Linked DNA regions of Homo sapiens. The protein of the gene in region 2 interacts with the protein of the main gene of each other region in a pairwise test. Each region holds a gene or a part of one and is shown on either strand. Other genes may lie near its edges. The genes, in order: VAPA and CACNG1.

Evidence for each region.
Region 1: the proteins of CACNG1 (region 2) and VAPA interact in binary tests that used the Homo sapiens proteins (3 or more experiments, as listed by UniProt).

Annotation. Positions count from the first base shown.
Region 1 is NC_000018.10:9,955,260-9,959,079, reverse strand, and holds part of VAPA (vesicle-associated membrane protein-associated protein A), read right to left. Parts: 3' UTR 1-3,820. UniProt on the Homo sapiens protein: Endoplasmic reticulum (ER)-anchored protein that mediates the formation of contact sites between the ER and endosomes via interaction with FFAT motif-containing proteins such as STARD3 or WDR44.
Region 2 is NC_000017.11:67,050,842-67,054,661, reverse strand, and holds part of CACNG1 (voltage-dependent calcium channel gamma-1 subunit), read right to left. Parts: intron 667-3,820; coding exon 592-666; intron 1-591. UniProt on the Homo sapiens protein: Regulatory subunit of the voltage-gated calcium channel that gives rise to L-type calcium currents in skeletal muscle. Regulates channel inactivation kinetics.

The DNA.
Region 1 (3,820 bases), on a different chromosome or scaffold from region 2:
TTCCATAGGATGGAGATAAGTATTTCACAAGTTATCAATGATGATGAAATGAGCTGACGTAAAACTAAGTAATAAGCATGTTGAAAACGACATTATACTTGAAAACCACCTTTTGCTTTGAGAAATACATGATGGACAAAATAAATTTCTCAGGTAGGTAGGTACACTGGGTGTCAGCAAAATGGCAATTAATACTGAAGCCCACATTTCTCAAATCGCCTTTTTGCGATGACAGCTCATTTATTCACAAGTCAAAAATCTTTAGTGGTATTCCAGCAATCCTAACTTGACAAGCAAAGCTTTTATGCAATTTTTTTTAAGCAATACCTAACAGTGACTCCTGCAGTTTAAAGAAAAATAAGTATTTTAAGTTCCCCTGTATTGCTGAAGTCAAGTCTTAATTAAATCTACTTCATATCTGCCTTTGGCATTTAAAAACCTACATAAAGCAACTGTCTGGCCGATGATTGGAGCTTGAAAAAAACTACCATGCCAGATCTCCACCCCAGACCAATTAGGTCAGTATCTCTGGGGGTGCTATTCAAGCAACAATTATCTTTTATGTTCCTAAGCTCATCATGAGTTAAGGTACTGCTATAGTTGAATATCACTACTACAAAAGTTATCTGAATAACTTCCTATATACTCTCTTTCAAGATGGGTGTTATACATAGCAACAACTGGAAAACAAGAAACTGAGTTTTAAAACAAGAAATGTGGCAACAGGAGGATATGCATAACTAGAAGGGAATTGTCAAGAGGCCAGGCCAATCAAATGTTACATTATAAAATGTCCATAACCTTAAGAAAGTTAACTATAAAAACAAAGCAAAATGCTTTTAGTCACATTTATACTTGGTTTTCAATAAACCACAGAAATTAAGCTGGAAAAAAATAGGATACAACTTATAATTAGTGATTATGCTTAAAGAACATTAATATTACAGGGAAATGAATGAAATGTTCCTAGCAATTGATGCTGCTGAAAGGCAGAATTTGGAATTTTTTATATTTTCCAAAAATTGCCTGAAGTGCACACACTGTGTCAGAAGGGCAAGACAAACTTTCTTTTTCCTTAGTGATATATGTTTATACTTCTTTGCACCAACCCACGAGCGGCTGGGCATTCATTCCCAAGATGCCACTGCTTACGCGAAGAAGCGTGGTGGTAGTCTACCAAAAGTGGGGCTATGAAACGTGGCATGAAAATCAGCTGTTCTCACTTCCTACTAAAAAATAGTTAACTCCATCTCACTAAGCAAGAGACTATCTGCCATCAGAATTCAAGTCCCAGTGATTAGCTATTAATGCTTAACAGGATATAAATGCACAAACCACACAATCTGTTGAAATTTTTTTTGTATTGTGAAAAGGAAAAGGACACTTCACATTTTTAAAGTTTATTCATGAATGGTTTAATTTCCCTTTAAAGCTAGAAAATAAAGATCATTTACCTTCTGATCTTCGTTTTTCCAAATGGTAATAAGCATTGATCCTTCCCTCGAATAAAGGTGAAATTTTTAAAATCTCAGTGAATAGGAATGTGCAAAGCTCTAAGAAAACTATTACTTGAATGTCTCTAAAGTGGTAGAAGATCACAAGTTGGGAATACCCTCAAAAACTATATTTTTACCCTACTGTTAAAACTTGTTTTCAAAGTGGTGTAATCTGAAAGATTACAGTTCAAAAGTAATTCCCATACCAAATAATATCAACTTTAGGTGAACATCTAAGTATTTAAGAGTATTATTTTTCTTGGCTGGGTGCGGCAGCTCACACCTGTAATCCCAGCACTTTGGGAGGCCGAGGCAGGCGGATTCAGGAGTTTGAGCCCAGCCTGACCAACATGGTGAAACCTTGTCTCTACTAAAAATACAAAAATTAGCCGGGCTTGTTGGCTCACACCTGTAATCCCAGCTACTCAGGCGGCTGAGCCATGAGAATCACTTGAACCCAGGAGGCGGAAGCTGCAGTGAGGTGAGATCACACCACTGCCCTCCAGCCTGGGCAACAAAGCAAGACTCTGTCTCAAAAAAAAAAAGAAAGAATTACTTTTCTTTGATCGGAATTTCTGAATTTCATACATTTTTCTTCCAAGTGTCATTTTTTTTTAAGGGAACATACCACACACTCAGAACATAATGACTTAGCTTCTTGTAAATATAAGAATGGGGGAAGTTAAGGTACATTAGTTATAGAACGAAGGAAGCTAGTGCATTCAGTGTCACATATGAACTCAAGGCCTTAGTTACTTGATTGTAATTTCAGTATTAGCAACAGTGTATTTCCCTCATGCTTACATATACAAGTAAGCAGGCAGACAAAGCAAAAACTTCTAAACATATAAGGAATGAAGACAAACAATTTAATCTCTATATTATCATATTATCAGTCAATTAATACAGTTGGACTTTCAAACTATAACTGTTGGTAGTAAAATAATCTGATCACATTTCATACAGCAATTAAAAATAACAGAAACAGAGTCTCACCTATACAATCAGAGCATCTCCTGATATGAACAACAGTTAAGCCCACATACATTTTAAAGATGCTACCCAGACTACAATCTATCTCAAAAGCAACCATGGCATAATGCATTTTATAAAATGCCTACCTAAAAATACATTGTATTTTGTAATGTTTATTACCAATGTGGGAGGCATTTCTAGCCTAAACACTATAACCAAACTATTCAACAGTAAGCCGGTAGTAGTCTTACAATAAGAAATTTCACATATACTTGTTATTATAAATAGCATTTTATGTTCATTATTTCAGCCATCTCTCAAACTAAGACAATTTTCAACAGTTACCAGAAGACACTGAGCTAGAGTCAACAGACCAGATATCTAGTTCCAGCTCTGCCTCTACCTACCTGTGAGACACGGGGAAAGTTCTCTTAACCTTCGTAAGGCCTCAGATTTCTCAACCATAGAACAAAGGGGCTGAACAAAATGAATTCTAAAGAGCATTCCCATAAAACGGGATTTGGCTAAATTTTCAAGAACTTAATTTCTTTAAAAAAAGATAGCTATGAGATACCAAACTTGGTATTTACCACCAATAATATTGATTATATAAGAGCTTTAAGCCAAGGAATTACTGATTCTGCATTTATGGGGTGAAAATATAAGACTATTTTTAGCATGCTTTTCCAGTTACCAGAAAAGGGGAGAGGGGGATTTTTACAAAGACAGTAAAGCATACAGCAATGGCAGTAAAGCATGCAGCATAGCATGCTAGTAATGGATAGGCATTACTTGTGTTTCCTTTTAGGAACTTTTGCACACAAGCAAGAGGTTTTATAAAAGATACCACAGCGCCCAATAACACAATATATGTGTGATCTGACAAATTCAAAACACAGTTGAAATGAAAAGGCAACCAAAATACTTCAGAGTACTTCATTCTTCTATAAAATGTGTACACAGACCTGGGCCTAAAATACTTCACTGCACCACATCCAGTTCTAAAATCCAATTTCCTTTTCAGGTAGAGCGCATCTTTTAAAAAAAGAGCCAACACACCTATGTTTAAGAATAAAAATTCACTTGTACTAGATTGTATGTAGCTAAACACTGGATCTATTTTCTGATTCCAAAATTTTCTATCCTAGTATGAATAAATGAAGAATAGGACAAACCTAAGTGCAGGAAAGTATCAAACCCTGTAACGCATACTTATACTGAAAATGTGTTTCACATGGTTAACATTTGCAAAGGCTAAAATCATTTTTCATAAAGAAAATTCCACAGGCTTGCTCAGTATTACCAAACTTCCATAATGAACATTATTTTGAGTGCCAAATTGAGCACGA
Region 2 (3,820 bases):
TGTGTGTCGTGTGTGTGTATCTGTGTTGTGTGTGTCTGTGTGTGTCAGTGTGTGTCTGTGTGTCTGCCCACTCACCCTGTGTGCAGCTGTCTGGGCGCAGGCAGGCACGGGTCTGTACTCCCGACAATGGGTGTGCGTCTGAGCTCTGCGGATCCTGAAAAGCTCCCAGAGCCCACCGCACCCTCCTGGTACTCAGGGAGGGATTTCTAGGCCAGGGAGGGACTCAGACTGTCCCTGCAGACTCTAACTATCACATGCCACCAAGAGCCACCACGGGGCTTCTGAGCATTTGTTCCACATCCACACCTCCCGTCACAACAGCTGCCCTTGTGTAGGGGCCTACCAGGAGGTGCTGCTTCTGCAAACGCTCCCTGGCCCCGAGGTGTGGAAGCTCCGGGCCCTGGAGATGGAAGGCGGCTGCCTGGGGCCTCCGGAGCGGGGAGCTGACAAGGCTGTTGTTCAAATGCACCACAGGCTTCTTCTCATCAGGCGTGAGGAAGTCAGTGCTTTTGCCAATGACTTTCTGGCCCAGTGGTGCACAACACAGAAGTCCCCTCTTGTCACCCCAGACCCCTTTCCACCCAGGCTCACCCTTCTGAGTGGTGAATTCGAAGATCTCCGAGCTCTCGCCGGGGTTAAAATGCCTGAAGTAGGAACAGTTCTTCTCTGCAAAGGAGGAGACAGACTGTGAGTTGAGGGGAGCAACCCGTAGCAAGGACAGAGGCCTGGCAGAGAGCGTGGTGTCATTCTGCTCGGCATGCAGGGGGCTCTGGCAGCCTCTCTTCTCCCCAGATCCTTAATCTGGGCTGAAACATCTGTCTTTGACCCTTAGAACAACATCTCAGTGGGATAATGAGGTTGCCTGCAGGGCTGGGAGGTCTTCAGGGAGCTGAGGCTGGATGAGTCTGCAGGGCAGACGGCCTGTGGGTTCTGCACCCCATTAGGCAGACAGGGTAACCGAGGCCCAGGCTCAAGCCATTTTTCAGGGTGTGCAGGGTGCACAATCAACAAAGAACCAAACAGCAGTCTCTGTTGGGGCCGATTCTGCCCCCCCAGGGGACACTTGGCGATGCCTGGGGTTATGGTGGTGGTGAGAGGGGTACACCTGGCACCCAGCCGGTAGAGGCCACAGACGTTGCTGAACATCCCAAGACACACAGGACAGGTCCTCCCAACATGGAATGATCCAGGCCAAAATATCAAGAGTGTCAAGGTTGAGAAACCCTGGATCAACCCCAAACCTGGGACTGTGTTTCTCATCAGAATCCAGGCACACCCTGGTTCATTGGTGGGACCTGGGAAACAGTGTTTTTCAAAAGCTTTCTGGGAGAGCCTGATGTGCAGCCAGGATGGGAACCCTGCTCCAGGCCCCTTAAAATGCCCTGCAAAGGGCTTTTTCCGAGTGGCCATTGGGATGGCCTGGATGCAGATGGAACCCCTACGAGGGCTGAATGTGACCATCATGTGGTTTCACTGGGTCCCTGGTCTTTGCGAGACAGCCCAGATGAGACCTGCCCCCACAAAGCCGCTTGGCCCACCTGATAATTGTCATAAAAGCTATGGAAAGTCTGTGGGCAGTAGGAACGCAAATCTGAATTTGATGAGGGAGAGGGGAGGGGCTCAGCACAAGGAAATTCATGCTGATTTAAAATATAATTTCATTTCCATTTTTCTCTTTCAGTCTCTCTCTCATAGCTAGGTATACTATAAAATCAAAGCACAGGCCGGGCGTGGTGGCTCACACCTGTAATCCCAGCACTTTAGAAGGCTGAGGCAGGAGAATTGCTTCAACCCAGGAGGCAGAGGTTGCAGTGAGCTGAGGTCGTGTCACTGCACTCCAGCCTGGGTGACAGAGTGGGACTCTGTCTCAAAAAAAAAAAAAGCACAGTCTTATTTCTTGCTAAATACGGTTTATCTTCTTTGCTCTTGATTTAGGAAGTGGATGAATGGGTTATTTTATATTATGTTTCCTTCCAAAACTAAATTAGTTTGCTTTTTATTTGTGGAGGCCCTTCATTGATTTCTTTTCCTGTGGATCAGTGACCCTTAAATAGAAAAACATCTCTTTCTCTAGTTGAGATGGTGTCTAGTTTGCCAATTCATTTCTTCACTTCCAGGCTTCATTTAGATGCTCATAAGGCGGTTGATGCCTAGTTCTTTCTGGAAATGTACCTGCAGTGATACCAAGGCTTTTCTTTGGGATGAAGACTTTCTTTAACCGGACCTAAATCATTCTTCTTGCACCTTAAGCCTGTGGTCTCATACCATGCCCCTCCTTCCCCCCAGAGCCAGGGCTGCTGCCTCTCCTGAGGTTGAGGAAGCAAATGACCCCTGGAGATGGGATCTGGTTTAGCAGCAGTACCCATTCCTGGCATAAACAGCCTTCTCTGTGTGCTTCTATATTTAAATCACTTTCCTTTTGAACCGCGTTACCTGGGGTGTCTGACTGCTGGTGGTGATGTCAGAATTGGTGCTCTGCTATTCTCTCTGGGCATCCGGTGCTATTTTAAAGCATAATGCAGATCTCTTCTATTTGTTAGATTATTGGCTGTAGATCTCTCGAATCACTGCTTCAAAATGGCCCATGCTATGTCATAAGTCTCCATGTGTCTCCCTCTGGACAAAGAAACATTTCTGTTTCTGTTTCATTCTTGAAGGGCCAATTTCAGTTGTCAGAATTGACTGAATTCAAGTGTATTTCATGGTCAGCTGCCTCCCTGACTGCTCAAAAGCCATAAGTTAAAATCCTTCCCAGCGGAGGGCCCTGAGATGAGGGCCATGGAGTGCCTTGCTGGGGGCACAGCTGTTTGCACCTGGTGGGTTGCTGAGGTGACTCTCACACAGGTAGCATTTGGCTCACCAAATCCCCACCAGATAAACGCCAGGCTCCGCCTGGCTGCTGGCTGCTTGGATAGAAATGATCTTAACTCAGACACAGGGGTAGGCTACGTGTCTGCAGGAGCCAGGTTGTGAGCTTCTGGGGGGATGCTTTTCTTTTGGTGGTCCAGGTACAGTGTTCCTCCTCCCTCTTCTCCATTAAGTGTCCTCAAATGGAGGGAGGGGGCCTCCAGTGGGTAGGATTCCTTCTCAGGGTAACAGGAAGCCTCAGCTTCACTCTTACATGGCTGAACTGGGGGCCTGAGGACTGATGGGCTGACCTCTCCCCTTTCTTGGGCTTAGCATGTGAAAAAGACCGGTGTCTCCTGCCCTGAACCTGAGAGAAACATCCACTCCTGGGCTATGTGGCTGCCCATTGGAGACCATAAACCCTTTCATGGTCTCTAATGGCCCCTGTAGGGGTGGGGGCACGTCAGACCCAGGCCTCATTTAGGACAAATCAGGCCAGGCATCTGCCCATGTTACTCAAGAGGGTGCAGGGTCCTGTTCAGATGGACAGACCCTACTATGAGCCCCTTCCCTCCCTGCCCTGTTCCTGGGTCTAGGTGGATATTATTTGGGAAACTGAGCATCCAGGGCAACGTAAAGAGGAAGGACATCCGAGGTGGACCCATCTTAGTCATGGGTCAAGAGGAGAGGGACCGTGACGGTCCTGTGCAGACTCTCAGTCTTCCTGCCTCTGCCTCTGGGATGCCCCTCTCTGCCCCGCTGCCCTGGCTTCCATCACACTTACACAAAGCTCAGGGATTGCAGCTTTGCTTCCGACTAAGTCAGCAAAGATTCCAATGCCAGGATGATGATCTGGGGTGTTAGGAACTCTGAGGTCGTGCCATTCTCCTTTGTCTCTGCAGATGGCTTATGCTGATTTTAATCTCCTTATTTCTGTAAGACTCAGCGGTTTAAAAATATTAAATGGGTTATT